Linked DNA regions of Homo sapiens: region 1 is linked to region 2. A link means that fine-mapping ties the variant in region 2 to the expression of a gene that starts in the linked region. Tissue or cell type: whole blood. Region 2 holds a variant in brackets; the other region holds the start of a gene. All regions are shown on one strand. Distances are between the middles of the regions.

Region 1 (8,183 bases), 37 kb after region 2:
GCGAGGGCCTGAGGATGGTGCACGACTTGGACAGACAAACCACCCACAGGCAGAATCCAGGGCACTGCTGACAGTAGGGGCTTCTGATCTAGCATCTGTTGGCCAACTGACAGCTCTAGCTCCATGTGACCCTCAGTCCTGGGCACCCTAGACTTGGAGAGATGGATGGTTTTGTAAAATAGCAAGCTAGAAGAACCAAGCATGGAGGAAACAGAGAAAGAATAGGTGGCTGTTGAGCCAGAAAGCAAGACAGAGAAGTTATGGGGTCTCTTGAGGCCCACTTTCCTATAGGTCCTTTGCTCTGAACCAAAAGAGTGGTCTTGAGGAAAAGCTAGAAAACAGAAATACTAGAGGAAAAACACAGTGCAATGCTTGGTCAATGTGTTTATCAGAGCTGAAGACATCACTGAGCCACCTCAGAACCCTGGTGTTACCTGAGGTTTGAATGTGTTTGTAGGTGGTGAAGAGATCCCAAGACTCTGCTAGCAGATCTCCTGTAAAATATCCCCACCACGATCACGTCTGTTCTGTAAAATCATCTTTTGACACTGCTAATGTATTTTAAACTGTAAACTTTGTCAAGTTCGCTTGGGCTTTCACATGAAAGGAGTTAATTCTCATCAAATGATGGTATTAGGGAATGACTGGAGTCAAGATACCAAGCCCAGCTCTTTCATTCAAGGGCTGATAAGTCTCTTAATTGTGTTACACTTGTCTCTCCATCTGGCAAAATGCAGTTGATCGCTCTCCTTTCTCTCTCTTCAGGAAACATTCAAACAGGAACGAGAATTTGGACAAGCGAACACTCTGTGCTGCTCAAGGGAAGAGCACAGTGGAAGTCCAAGGGCGAGTGTGTGCCCAGGGCAGGGCAACTGGGCTCTGGGCTGATTCCCGGGATGCATGATTACATCAGCCTGAGCTCAGCTTCTCCACCAATAAAAAGGGCCAGTGATATCTGCCCACCCTTATCTCAGAGCTCTCCTGCCAGTACCTGGGCATTCCAAATAATGTACTAGACCAAAATTGTCCTGGATTCTGCCCTGCAAAGTGGACGTTTCCTTTAATTTGGCTTATAAACTTTCTGATTTCACTCTAAATCCTGACCATAGATTCTTTTGTCTCAAAAGCTCCCTAAGATAGAATAGACCTACTTCAAGATCTGAACAAACTTTGTAATAATAATTTTAAAGCCCTAGAGTGTCTATAACCAGCATGTCTGATTGAGAATCCTCTCAAAATGGAGAGACAAACTCTGTGACCCCAGCAAGGAGGGATGATTTCTCACCCAGTCCTGGTGGAAGGTAGGAGCAGGAAGAAGGGAACACTGCAGTGTCTGAAATTTCTCACATACAATCAACCATCCCTGTCCTTCCTTCCTCCTTCCTGTACTGCCCACTCCCCTATTTCCTCCATAGTCTGTGTTCCAGGATAGTTTCTTTCTATTTCCTTCAGGGCACTGAAGGTAAAGATCAAGGGTACTACTTTTAGCAGAAGTACTTGCATTTTTTTCCATTCTAAGAGATGCCAAAAGTTAGACCTCTAATGCGGAAGCTTGACAGGGTGAGAAAAGAATTCAGCATCTGTCCGACTACACAGTATGTTATCTACTCAAAAGTCCAGCCCTGGAAAGCTGTCCTTCCACCTCAGGAGGAAATACAGCTGCTTGCTGGGTTGTTCACTTCAGCATCTTCAATAAGATGAGCTCTGTATCAAAGAATCCTGAAAAGTTTGAAGAGAGAGGAGAATATATAGAGTAGTAGGAGTGAGCATAGTCCCTGTGAGAAATGACTAGACATGACTAGAGATTCTCTGAAGTTCAGCCCAAGGAAGAGATCAGCCTTTTGCATTGCAAACTTTCCCCCCACACTAGTAAAGGTGAAAGGCCTACGTATCCCAATGACTAAAAGGCCAAATTAGAGCTAGCTTTTTGGCTTATGACTTAATTGTTGTTGGTTTTAGTTGTAGTTTATAAAGAATTTTTCATGGACCTTCTTTTCTCTTAATGCTACCAGTAGGCCTTATCAGTCCTTTATACCAACTGTTCCCAACCTTTTAGCACCAGGGACCACCTGTACCAGTCCGTGGCCCATGTGTTGGGGACCCGTAATTTATACCATGGTGTTAGATTAGTTTGAGATGCTCCCCATAAGAGCAGTTTTTGAAAGGAGGGAAAAAAAATAGAACCAGACTCCCAAGGTTGGCGGAAAAAAAACAATCTCACATATTTGAAAGACTGAGTCCTTTATATCCTCTGCCATCTTTTCGATGTTCCCCTTCCCTTTGCCTTATCAATGTACAAAGCTTTTTACTAGAAAATACAAGGCAAAATGCACATTCTCTAATAAAGCAGAAAATTACTTTGGATAAACTTTCAGCAAAACCATGTAGATTTCTTGGTTTAAAAAAATTGTGTTTGTGCAGGAACTTTTTGTTTATACATCCCCACAAGCTCCAACAAAACTGAAGATGATAATCAAGGTTGCAGATTTTATTAGGGTTCACTTTAGAAAATAAATGTATAGTATAAATGGAAATTAAATATTTCAGGAAATGACTGGCTTTATCCAGAACATACAAGTTTTAATTTTTCAACAGACAATATCAAGATGTTCTTTATTTAGCCCCTACCTTGCATAGTGGGGAAGACACAAGGCCAGTTGAACAGTGAACTGCTGAAAGCAAATTTCACTTTCAACACAGAAAGCACGGGATTATGAAACAGGTTCTTCTTAAGAAATACAGAGGGTTTTAAACTTTTTGGTTGCAAAAAAAAAAAAAAAAAGATGTGTAGTTCATTTCCTCCTCTGTTTTCTGCAGAGCACTAAGAATTGTAACTGAATTTGCTTCACTTTTCTGACTCACTCGTCACTGTGAGGCTGTAATCACTCTGTATTGACAACTGCTTCTTTGGGGCCAGATTGTCAAGTAACATGACAGAGGGGTCTCAGTCTCACTAAGAAAGATTTTCCAGTAAGCAGTGACCGGGAATCATAAGAATCACTGACTTTCATCTTCTCTCTTTTATTTCTTTTATTTTAGTTAGAAATAACTACTTACATAATGTCTTACTACATAATGTCTTGCTACATTATGACAGTGAGTGTGGTCAGAGCAGCCAGGAATGAATGCCAAGGGAAGATGAGGAGTGCAAGAAATTGTCCGTAACTCCCTGAAAATACTGTAACGAATCTGGTCTAATGTGTTTCTCAGAGACCAGAAAACTTATGACTCTCTCTTCACATTCCACTAGTTCAATTTTTTGAGTTCACATTTGTTTCTCATTCTTGGCTTAGCTGATGCATTCCAAGCTTATTCTTCTAAATTATTATGTATTTGCCCCAAGCAAAGAACTTTTAATGCACAGAGTTTATGGGCTATTCTCTATAACTTTAAGGAAAATGAAATTATTTATACCTGGAGTAGGAAATCCTTAAGCAGGATAAAAAAAACCAGTTGAAATCAATAGTTGCCACATGATAATACATTTCTATTCACAAATGGCCTGGTTCCAGGTAAAACTTCAGGATACAGAGAATGCTAGAACGTGCAGCAAAATGAAAGCCCAGACCACTTAAGTAAACTTTCCAGTCTCTTGTTAATAGCTGAGTAAATCTCTGGGCAATCCTCAAGAGGTTCTTAGAAGTCGTCCCTCGTTTATATCTAGAAGGTTCTTGTAATTGTCTTGTAAATCTCCAAAGATATTTAGAGATTACTTTGCTTTAAATAGAGACCAAAAATGACACAAAACTAAAGCTGGACTATTGCCTGGTACACTATTTCTACCTAGTGCAATTTTTAATTTCTTAAAAATCAAGTGATCTGACAGCACAATACTTGTCAAGTACTTGTCATACTGAGATGTTTCTTGCCATCCATATGTATATTTTTGCCAACTATATTTATTGACTATTGATGCTTATTCCAGGTGGCTGAGTCACCCCAATGCTTGGAGGAAGCAAGCAGGGTACAAATCAATTGATCAATGAAAACACTAACGACTGACTTTTAAATCACAAAGCCATTTTAGAGTATAAGTAAATACCTGAAATAAAGAAGGCACTTCACTCACTCCTTCTCTTCCATTCCCATCAACTTTTGTGGGTAAATGCAATAGGTAATTGAAAACTTAATATCACAACCCCTAAATAGTCAAACAGCCTCTAGTAACTTGTTTCTTCCTGGAAAAGATGAATCTGATCCCAATTAACTTAAATAAAACAAACCAAACAAAACTCTCCACTACCAGCCTGGCAGCTAGGGAGGCATTATTGGGTCTGAATGTAGGAAATCAGGAAATACTTACAATCAAGATGAACGTGCCCAAGAACTCAGAGAGGGTTTCTTTCGCTAAGCTGCTCTTCAAGACCAGTCTCTGCTTGAAGCTTTTTCCCTTTTCTGCTCCCTCAGGCTGCATCTTGGGGCTTCTCTGAGGACTCCTGTTTCTACCAATACCTACCTGTTGTGGTCCTCACTTTCACAGCCAGATGAAAATGGACGTTTTGACAATGGCTCACAGATTCCTGGAGATGTCTGGTAAGAGTCTCTGACTGTACAAATGCCGTTCCAATTAGAGGCTGTGGCTTAATCGTCTTCTGGTGGAACTGTCATTCCCTGTTCGCTGCTATTTGTTTGAATCTGCGACTTAGAACCCGAAATCCCCAAAACAATCCCTTTTGTGCCTGACAGATTAATCATTACCTTTATTCTCAAGGTACTTTTTTCTCTGTTGGTTTTTTTCAAGAGATGAGAAAAGAGATGTGCCAGTTGTGTTGCCAAATCACAGTGACGGGCCCTGGTCCAGAAAAGATTTTCATGTTACACAATTGCAGGCTTCTGATTTTTTTTTCTTCTCATTCAGAAGTGGGTGGTTGGGGTGTAGTTTGGAACTGTCAAATCAGGTGTAGATATATCCAATGTTAACATTCTTTTCTGAAAAAGGTTTTTATGCAAAATGAAGAATTTGAAGAAAATATAGATTTATCATCCTAGAAGATTAATCACTCTTGTTTTCTTCTGGTATCATTTCAGTGGCTTCATGATACCACTCTGAGGTTAGTAAGAACCACATAGGCCATCCTAGAGATGGAGAAATTAACATACAGAGAAACCATTGCAAGCTTCACACTGCAAGTCTGTAGGACAGATGGAGTCACCTCTTCGGTTATGAAACTGGGCTTCACTTGCTGAAGATACTTTAGGATCCAAGAATCAGAAAGATGGAGGAGTCACCTTTTTGGTGACTTCTGAAGTTTCTTCTGAAGAAACATTCCAGTTTGGGTTTCTTCTGAAGAAGCATTCCAGTTTGAAAATAGTCACTCTTCTTCATTCACCATGAAATATTTAGACATAATACATAGGAAATAAACAATAGCAGCTTGAAATTCTTTACTGCATGGAGATGACTGAGCCGGAAAGAGATCAATTAGCGTGTATGTCATTCTAATCAAACGAGAAAGGGAGCCAGTACACCTAACCGAGGCTCCTAGGTTATACCCTTTCAATTTGATAAATTGACATCCTTGCTGGCAAGAAACTGTGTTTGGGAGTAGCTCCTTGTCCTGCCAAATATTCAAGCCTTGTTTTTCAAAACTGGCTTATCTGAAGAAATAGAATATAGCATTAGTTTCTAAATAGCAAGGCAGGCCTAGTTTCTGATTACCAATGTGGACTCATGGAATTAGTATCCATGCTGTGTGGTTCCTTCCAGTCCTCCCACAGGGAAGCCAGCTCTGCATCAGGCCCTCCCCTAGCTTTGCAAAAAGGGAGGGAGGAGAGGACATGGAGAAAGCAGCTGGTGAGAGGCCAAAGGCAGAAGGAGACTTCTCATCTGTAGGTGACATTTAGAATTTAGACTTTAAAAAGTTATAACCTGCCTGAGGCCACACTACTGCAGAACCAGGACAAAACCTCAGCACTTTGGCTTTAATTCCTGATGAAGTTATCATAAATACCATTGTCTAGAAGAGTTACCTATGACCACACCATTACCAAGTCCCAGTGGATGGACCAGAGAAACAGGACTTTCTTACTGTGACTACAGCTAATAACATGCAAGAGCGTTCTCTGGTCTTCCCATTCACTCATCTAACAACTATTTACTGCACACTCATTATGTGCCAAGCACTGCACTTAACAAGAGCACATAGGGTTCTTGTCCTTCACAGAGCCTAGAGTCTAGTGAAGCAGACAGATGTAAGTGAAATAATCCCACACACATAAATACAAAATCACAACTGAGATGTATGCTGCAAAGATGGGGGCCATATTTCCATAAGCAAATATAGCAAAAGGATTTGACTTTGTTGGAGAGATCTCTGATGGCTTCTCCAAGGAAGTCATGTGTGGACTGAGATCAGAAAGAAGCATGGGATTAACTACATGAAGTGGGGAAGAAAGTGCATGTACAAAGTCCTTGGTGGCTTTGGGGGTAAGGGGTAGGGGACAGCATGATGCCTCTCAAAGAATGAGAGAAATTTACTGTGGTTGGCCCCAGAGAGAGTGAAGGAGTACAGCATGCAAAATGAGCCCTGAGGTGTGGGCAAGGGTCAGACCTTACTAGGCCTTGTAAGTGGTAGTTAGGGCTAAAAGTGTAAGTCATTAAGGTGGTTTAAGCAGAAATACGACATGATCAGATTAGAGTTTTGAAAAGATCCTCCGAGCTGTGAGGTGGAGAGGGGATTGGAGGGGGCTTGGAATGGTCATAGGCAGATACATTTGGGGGTATTACAGAATTCCAGAATTGGGTGGTAGTTTGACAGTGGAGAAATGGAGGGATCCAAGAGTTCTTTATATCTTAAAATTGGAAGAATTTCATGGATTAGATGTGGGAGATGAGGAAAAGAGACTGAGAAAAGTTGGTTCCTGAGTTCCTAACTTGCTGGGGAAGGTGCTGCTGAGCCCTGGGAGAGGAAATCCTGGAAGAGGACCAGAAGTGCAGTGGAAGATCATTAATTCTGCTTGTGCAAAACTGAGCCTCAGAGGCTTCTGAGCGATGTAAGTTAGGAAGTGATATGGGTCCAGATGAGGAAGGAATGTCTGTGTGCTCATAGTGGTGATAACTGGAGCCTGGAGTAAAGAGGCTCCCTAGGGAGAGAGTTTGAAGAGAACTGAGAGTTTGATATGGAACATTTCATGCTTAGGTAGAGGAGGATGGAATCTTTATTATTTCTGTTTTACTACCTTCAATTGACAGTCACACTTCTCACCTCCATCACCACGAACAGCTCATCATCAAACATAGCTTACTCATACAAAATATTCACTGAACAAAATGTTCCAGCCACCTAACAAAATGTTCAAAAGCATCTTAAGAAGGTAAGCAATGAATAGTATTCCTCCTTTATTCCATCTGGGAGGGAGCCTTTGTCAAAATACCCTGACTCCAAAGTTCTAACTGGAAGCATGAGGAAGCTTTTAAATTTCATTCACTCAGAAAAAGTTTTCATTGAATATGTACCATGTGTCAGGCACAGCATTAAGCAGTGGGAATTTAAAAATGAAAAAACAAAACCAGATCTCTATTATTAAGGAATTAATAGTCTAAGTGACTAAGATGTCTGAATGAATACACCATAGAGTAGAATAGAGTTGTAAGCAAGATACTGAACCAAAATTTCTGCTGTCACCATAGGAACATCTGAGAGCTAACTCTGCATTTGCCAACATGCAGAGGAAAGAATGAGTATGGTGACTGCTGTCAATGGTTCTAAAGCTGATGAGCTTTCCTGGATGCACTGCCATACTGATTCTCCAGGGCTGGCATATGCTGTTCTTTTATTAATAGTTCCCTTGGCTCTGCCCCTTCCTATCTTCTCTTCTCCCCAACATTCTATTCTGTGTTTATCTACTTTTGCCTTGGGTAACCATCTTTGCCTACACTCACGCAATCCCAAGATAGAAGCCTGGTGTTTATAAGTATAACCGCCTCTCACACCCTGACCTCACTTCCCCTACACCTCCTAATTCTAAATTCCAGTCCCTCAAAGCCTTCCTTTCCACCTAATTATTACCTCATGATTACCCACGTTAATGAAGCGCTTCCCAGCATCTCAGGTTCCATTGACCCAGTGATTTTCTTCTACACCCATGTTGCCAAAGCCCAACTCTGGGTATGCCTAACCATCCATTTTTTTTTTCTCAGACTTTCTCTTCCCTGGCTGCTAAATGTTGCTGAAGAAAATCAT
Region 2 (8,183 bases):
AAGTCAGCTCTCACATTTGCAGTCATGTCTTTCCCTGCTTCCCTGGCAGTTACTCACACGTTATCTGTGTTCCTGCAGCACTTTTAGGGGTTGCCAGAGCACTTATTATATCGCTCAAGGTGAGTGCTTTTGCTGATTTGAAATTTCCTTGCTTAGCACAGTGACTAAAGCACAGATAATGCCCAACAAATATCTGTGGAATAAGTGCAGCATAGGTTGCGTGGTTCACGAGGAAGAGCCCTGTAGTGGCATCATAGGATGCAAATTGTAGCCCAACTTTGTCACAAAATGAATCTGCAGACAAGTTATACAGCTAAAATGTTCACATAAAATCATATAGCAATTGAGGGATTATTATTATGTGGGACAGTTTTATCTCTATTGAATTTACCTAGAGCCGCCTCTCTTTCTCTGTCTCTCTCTCTCTTTCACACACACACACACACACACACACACATCATACCACAAAATACCAGTGAAATGTCTCATGCTTATGACCAGAGTGTGCAGTTAACGTTGGCGCTGTCATCTGAACTTCCCTGGATCTCCATGTCAAAGCCCCGCCCCACTGGTGAGGCGCAGCATGACTCTGTCTCTCTCTTCCCCACCACTGTTACTTACCTGAAGACTTCAAACCCCCAGCCTGCCAAGGCAGTGAAAAGTCTGGGACTCAGGTCTCGAGCTGGGTTCATGGCACAGCCACTGTTCAGTCCCAGGGAGGAAGCAATGACAATAATCAGGAGGCCGATGGCAATGGGCTCTAGGCCTCTGGGGGCTCCCAAGTTTCTGGAGTCAAAGATGGCAAAGACGATTATGAGGAGTATCATGGTGGCCACCACCTGGAGAGGGAGAAGTTGAGCCAGGGCTTTAGCCTGCATTCTGCTCACCTGCATGTCTCAAAATCATCCCTTCTTACTATTTTACAATATTACAATATTACTATTTTACTTATATTACAATATGCCTAGTAATAACTGGCATGTACTGGGTGAATAATTGTGCCAGTCTCTCTTCTTTCTACAGCAATTCTAGAGGAGAAGCCAATATAATTCTCATTTACAGATTGGTTACCCTGCCCACTTAGTAGGTGGCAGTCAGGTTTGGATCCAGAGAGTTTGGCTCCAGAGACTGTTATCTTAATACCACACTATCCTGCTAAGCTACTACTCAGCTAAGTAGAACGGCAAGCTGCAGGCTGGAAAAATGAATGAAAGGCTTGTTCAAATTGGTGAGAAAAGCAATGTGAGATATCAATAGATGAGTGTGCAAAGGAAGTGAACAGAAAATTCAAAAAAGGAAAACAGAATTAGGAAAGCAGTGGTAAAAACTCATTAGTAATAAAATAAATCCAAACAATATCAAATGTTAGGAAAAAGATACCCGTTATTTCAGGCTTTTCTAATAGATCTAAACAAGTACTATGCTTTTAAAAGGAAATTCAGCAATAATTTAGCAATATGCATTCAAAAACATAAATTTATTTATACAATTTGATGCTGCTGGATGTTTGAGAATTACACAATGGAAATAATCTAAAACGTGGAAAAATCATTTTAAAATGTCCACTTTAGCAAAATTTATAGTACTGAAAAACTGGAAGCTTTTACTCTTTTTTTAGTCTACTGTATAGCCATTAAAAACTATAAACATAAAAGCTATGTAGTAATATTTAAAAATACTTATAACATTAAGTGAAAAAAATTTGTATTTTTTTGTTTGTGTTTGTGTTTTGTTTTGTGTTTTATACAGCTGTCCCTTGGTGTCTGTGGGGGATTGGTTCCAGGACTTCCTGCAAGTACCAAAAATCCATGGATGTTCAAGTCCCCAATATAAAATTGTGTATTATTTGTATATAACCTATGCACATCCTCCTGTATACTTTAAATCATCTCTAGATTATTATAATATCTGATATAATGTGAATACGGTATTGTTTAGGGAATAATGACAAGAAAAAAGTCTGTACATGTCCAATACAAATGCAATTTAAAAATATTTTTGATCCATGGTTGGTTGAATCCATGGATGCAGAATTCATGGATATGTAGGGTTGACTCTACTTAAAAACATACGTAAAAGAAAAATTTTAAGACAATAAACAAAAATGATAATAGGTATTTGAATTGGCCAATTATAGCTGGTTTCTATGTTATTAGTTTTCCAAACTACTGTTTTACTTTAACAGTTAAATGATAGCTATTATTTATTGAACATTTATTATGTGCCAGGTACTTCATATGCTTTATCTCATTAAAACTTCACAGTAATGCTGTGAGGTAAATCCTGCTATTATTCTCAGTTTATAGATAAGAAAACTCGAGTAAAACAAGGTTAAGACACTTGTCCAATGTCAAACTTGTAAGCAGAAGAATCAGGATGGGAACCAGGCAACTGATTTTAAAGTTTAAGTTCATTATCATTTCATCTGCTTTCCAAAATAATAATGTTAAAATAATTTTTAATTAATATTAAAAGACACATGTTCCCCCAAGAGCACTCTTCTCTGGAATGCCTTCTCCAACTCTCTCTTGCAGAGTAAAAGCTCCCTCCTCTGGGCTTCCATGACATTCTGACTTTACTTGTATCAGTGTCCCTGTCACTCTGCAAAAGAGTATCTACTTACTTGTTAGATTGAGCCTCAGACTCTGAACTCCTTGAAGAAGGAAGAGTATAGAGCTGTACTTGGCTAAGTAGGTGCCCAGTAAATAGTTATTGGGTAAATAAATGATTGATTATTAACTAAACCAAGGAATATGCTTGAAGAGTATTTACAGCTAAACAATTTAGTAATCTTGAAATAAGGTGACCCCAAAATATGGTCATGATGGCCAAGAGCTCTGTTGGGTGTTGACTGACTGATAATTGGCAATTTTTGGAACTCTCTCCAAAGCCTAAGAATACGGACAGCATTCAGGGTTTGCTGACGGTTACAGCCTCAGGGTTTTCTAATATTCGCTTTTTCTACTTGACTTTATACACAATAATGGGCTTAGAAACCACAGACCTTAGAGAAATTGCCAACTCACTCTGAGACAAGGACACAATGAAGGAAGCTCAGGATATGGTATGCAGGTCAGCATTGATCAAGATACAGCTTTGGGAGGCTTAGGCAGGCGGATTATGAGGTCAGGAGTTCGAGACCAGTCTGGCCAACATGGTGAAACCCCGTCTCTACTAAAAATACAAAAATTAGCCAGGAGTGGTGGCTCACACTGGGAATCCTAGCTACTCCAAAGGCTGAGGCAGGAGAATTGCTTGAACCTGGGAGGTGGAGGTTGCAGTGAGCTGAGATCACGCCACTGCACTCCAGCCTGGGGCAACAGGCTCAGTCTTAAAAAAAAAAAAAAAAAGCTTAGAGAAAAACACCAAAATAACCAAAATTGTCCTCGCTCTTCTATGCTCTCTGCTTCAAATTTCTATTATAATATGGTCGCTATACTCCAGTTTCCTATCTAATTTTCTTCTTTTTTGCCCAGGCTGAGGTGTGGTGGTGTAATCATAGCTCACTGCAGCCTCCAACTCCTGGGTGCAAGCTATCCTCCCACCTCAGCCTCCCAAGTTGCTGGGACTACATGCAAGCACCACCACGCATGGCTAATTTTTGTATTTTTGGTAGAGGCAGGGTTTTGCCATGTTGCCCAGGCTGGTAGTGAACTCCTGGGCTCAAGTGACCTGTCCACCTTGGCCTCCCAAAATGCAGGGAGTAAGATGTGAACCACCGTGCCCAGCTCTGTCTAATTATATCTTATTTTGCATTGTTTCCTTGTTCAATGCTCTTCAACTAGATTCAAAATTTCTGGGCAGATACTGCTTACAATGCGTTTTTCTCATATTATTCTTTTTATCCTCATAAGTAACTTCATGAAGGCTCATATTATCCCCATTTTACAAGTGAATAACTTGCGACCCAAAAAGTTCAGTACTTTGCTGAAGCCACGCAGGAAGTTGGAGGCAGAACAGCTATTTTAATTCAAGCATTCAGACTCTGCATCTTGGATCTTTACAACTCACATTTACTCGTCAGTCTTTCAAGCTCCAGACAAAGGGCCAAGCACATAGTGAGTTTTTAATGAACACTTGTTGCCTGTTTGATTTATTGATGAAAGTGGAAAGTAAAAAAGCTGAGGACATGAGGGCATAGTTTTTCATCCATACATTGAATGGAGGTGGGCATAGCTGATGAACTGGAAGATCCATTTTATACACATGCCCATTCTGATCTGCTCCACTGTATAAGTCCTGATCATAGAGGAAGAACTTAGAGATACTGAAAAATATAGCCTTCCTTCCACTGCCCTGACCAAGATAACCAGCAGCCTTCTTGGGACACAGTAAGGGAAGAAGAGTCTTTTGAGTTGACAATGTTAGTCCTGCCATAAGCTGACCAAATAGGTGTGCTATTGGTTACACCACAGTATGCTTGGGTGCTAGAAGCTTGTTTAAAGGTCAATAAGCAGAGATACTTCTAGCCACCTTGAGAGTTTAAATAAATAAACCTATGCACATGGTGAGACAGAGAGGATTGATGATCCCCTAGGCTCAACTACCACCCTTCACAGTCTTTGATTTGAAATAGAAATATCTTCT[C/T]TTGTGGCCTCCACACTTAGACCACTTGTTCAAAAGAGTCAATAGTGAAGTGAAGTCCATTTGTGTCTACAGGGATTGAAATGTTTAGTCATTCACTCTTTTCTGGATCTCAACTAATGTTAAACAAGTGTACGTATTAAAGAGGAAGGAGAAAACTTTTCTGGTGGTATCAGCTCCTTGTAAAGGTAAAACGATTATCAAGAAAGCTTGGGTTATGCCCAGCAACCTCTGCCTTTGGAAATATAATCTCTCCTTTCTGATTGGTCTCTAATTCTCCAATGCATTCCCCTTATGAGAGCATATCTTTTCACCAAAGTTAAGTCTTTGTTGAATCTACACTTACTTGATCTGCAAATGCGTTCGCCAGAGATAGATACGGAGCTGGGTATGTTGCAAAAATGTGTGCTGTTGCATTTTCTCCCACGATCAGCAGTTTTCCACCAGCAAAGGACATAAGTCCATCTATGAAAGAGAAAGCTCTGGCACATTAGTGTTCCCTGGGAAGAGTTGAAGGAGGCCTGTGCCAAGCCTTGTGCTAAACAACCAGTCACTCAGATTGAGCTTGGCATAGCCATGTCATTTGTCTCTCTCTACTTCCGAGGAATGATAGTTTTAGAGATGCCCAGGTGAATCCCAGGATGGAGGGTCAAAGGAAGAAGGCCTTTGGCCTCTCTGAATGGCCCACTGCAAACTTGGACAAATTATTCTTCGATAGGGTCCTGGGAATGAGTTCTCTTTTGGGGGAATTCTTGGAGTTTTCGAGGTCAACTGTAAGCCAAAGTGGGGCTTGGTCTTGCTCTAGGAATAATTTATAATTCCCAGAGGGCTCTCAGTAACCCCTAATACCACTCCAGAATTTGAGGGTGTTGCAGTATACTGAAGATGCCCTTAGAGCCAGGGGTATTGCAGCCACTGCCACAGCTAGCACTGACCCCAGGCCATTCTTGCCACAGCAGCGGGCTCTGAATTTCCTGTGTGTTCTTGAATTCCATTTTAGCCCTTTTAGACTCTAATTCTCAGAGAGACACTCTATGGGGAAAAGTCCCTTTCCATAACCTATTTCTTTTCCTTTTTTTTTTTCTTTTTTTTCTTCTTTGGAGACAGGGTCTTGCTCTGCTGCCCAGGCTGGAGTGCAATGGCATGATCCTGGCTCACTGCAGCCTTGATCTGGGCTGAAGCAATCCTCTTATCAGCCTCCTGAGTAGCTGGGACTACAGATGTGAGTTACCACACCTGGCTTATTTTTAATTTTTTTTTCTGAAGAGACGAGGTATCCCTATGTTGCCCAGGCTGGTCTTGAACTACTGGGCTCAAACGATCCTCCCACTTATGCCTCCCAAAGTGTTGGGATTACAGGCATGAGCCACCACACACCCAGCCCTCCATGACCCATTTCTATAAGGCCTGGTTCATAAATTCTACTTCCTAAGGTCTTCAGTTTGGGTAAGTCATAATGTATTAAGGCTTACCTTGGGTTAGAAGGAAGGAGCTGCTTTAACAGTTGATTTCATGGGAACACCAAGGTGTTTTAGTTTGAAAGGCCTCGAGAGTCATCTGATTCAATTCCCTCATTTTCCAGAGGAGGAAACTGAGGCTAGTCAGATCAGATGACTTATTTAAGTTGCACAGGTATTTACTGAACAGCTAGAGCTAAAGTCTGGTCTTCTATGACCAATACTGTGTTTTTCCCAAGGACTGTTGCAGAGTGGAAGCCCTGGCTGTTTGATAGAAGGGCAATGAGGCTCCCACCCAGCCCACATCTCTGCTGTGTCTCTTCCTTCAAAGACATCTTCCCAGAGTCCTTCTCTCAATACTTACTGGTCACACCTTTGTCACCAGAAAACACCTCTTTTCCCAGCCAAATCAGAGACAGCAGTGGGGAAGCCACTGGCCTACTGCTTGTTGTATGGATGTGTATGTTGCAGTGCTGGCTTGGCACAAAGACAGGCTTCCTTTAAGTTCTGCTCCCCATTTAAGATATGACCATTTTCATTAACAGGATTCACGAATTTGCTGGAATGGTAATATGGCCTCATTTTCTCAAATTTAGAACTTGCTGTCACTTGTAGAATGCTTCCCGTCCTTGCTTTTTCTCGCCTGTGCCTACCAAGTAATTCTGACTTTCAAATTATGCCCAGCTCTTCCTAACCTTAGGACTCAGGGACTTTACTCACCATAGTAAATGCCAAAGACGGTTGCAGCCCCCACAAAGGCTCCCAAGAACTGGGCTCCCACATAAAATGGCAATTTGAACCATTTCATCCGTCCAAAGAGACACATTGCTAAAGACACAGCTGGGTTGATGTGACCACCTGCAAGGGAAGATTGGAGAAGTGAGAGGGCAGGTTAGGAAGAAGAATATACAGAAAACCATCTAGAGACCTCAGGTGGAATTCAGTCTTCTAGGCAGAGAACTACTGCCTATGAGGAGAAAGAGGGGTGTGTATGCACGTGAAAGAGAGAGTGTGTATCTGAGCAGGGAGAGAAGGAGGAATGATCATTTTCATGGCATCCTTGGATAACAGTTTAGAATGTTTATCTTGATGAAAAGAGAGTCAGGTATAAAAAGAAACTTGATGTGCTCAAGTGGCTGTTTTTTTAATAGGCTTGAATCCCTCTATCTATAAAGCAGTCACCCCAAACAGACTGATGTAGCTATTAACTTCGATATCTTTTAAAAGTCAATATGCTTATCCAATATATGTATAAGATTTAAATCTATATCTAGCAGTTCCTCCGGCCATGCCCAGAGGATATAAAAACAAGCTCAAAAGAGATGTATCTTTAAAGGAAAATGACTGTGGGTTGCTGAGGGTGGGGGCATAGTTGATTTTGAGGTGGTCACAGTGTGAGTGGCTTGTTCTCAGTTCCTCTGCATAAACAATGCATTTCTCTCCTATACAGAAATGTAGCAACCCTTTCCTGAGCCCAGCCCAAGCTCCAGCTAGAGAAATCGGCTTCCTTGACTTGCATCCAGCCATAAAATCAAATAGAGAGTTTGCTCTGTGGTTGGTCTCTAACATCCCCAGCTGGCTTTGCTAGTAACAACAACAGCAGCATTTATCAAATACTTACCAGACACCATTGTAGGGTTAGTAGGTGGATTTGATCCTCTTAAGAACCCAATGAGATGAGTACTACTCCAGTTAACGGATGAGAAAACTGAGGCATGGACGGAAAGTAAGTTTCTTAAGGCTACATGGTCAGTAAATGGAAGAACCAGGATTCAGATTCAGGTTTATCTGAATTCTAGAGCCTGTGTTTTCTGCTATACCACTTCCAGCCCATCTTCACCGTGTTTATAAAGGCTTCTCTGCTTTTGTGGGCAGAAAAATAAATAAAGAATTTAAAAAAATTGTCTGAGCATATAGGCTCACTTCCTAGTGAAAACAGATGTTCATTTGAGGAATACAGATGACATTTTTTGTGGAGGGGGAATCAGAGACACCACATTGAGATGTGGACTTTCAGGCTGTGGCCTTGGTCGTAAACAAAGGAGGGATGATGGTGGTGATGATGATGATGATGATGATGATGATGATGATCCTGCACAGAACCAATAGGTGCACTTGTTTCCAGAAGCCTCTACCACTCCC

The links. PIP is the estimated chance that this variant, and not a neighbour inherited with it, causes the effect.
Region 1: it holds the start of AQP9, and the variant in region 2 is fine-mapped to the expression of AQP9 in whole blood (INTERVAL, PIP 0.95).

What each region holds. Positions count from the first base shown.
Region 1 is chr15:58,134,797-58,142,979 of GRCh38, reverse strand. It overlaps AQP9 (aquaporin 9), which reads right to left and starts at 4,599. Exons shown (of 6, transcript NM_020980.5): 1 at 4,304-4,599. The coding sequence starts at 4,414.
Region 2 is chr15:58,171,784-58,179,966 of GRCh38, reverse strand. AQP9 (aquaporin 9) reads right to left here. Exons shown (of 6, transcript NM_020980.5): 3 at 6,762-6,899; 4 at 4,931-5,049; 5 at 622-839. Among named protein-coding and RNA genes, the nearest start is that of AQP9, 37 kb to the right of the region's middle. The variant C/T (reference allele first, on the strand shown) is at 4,588.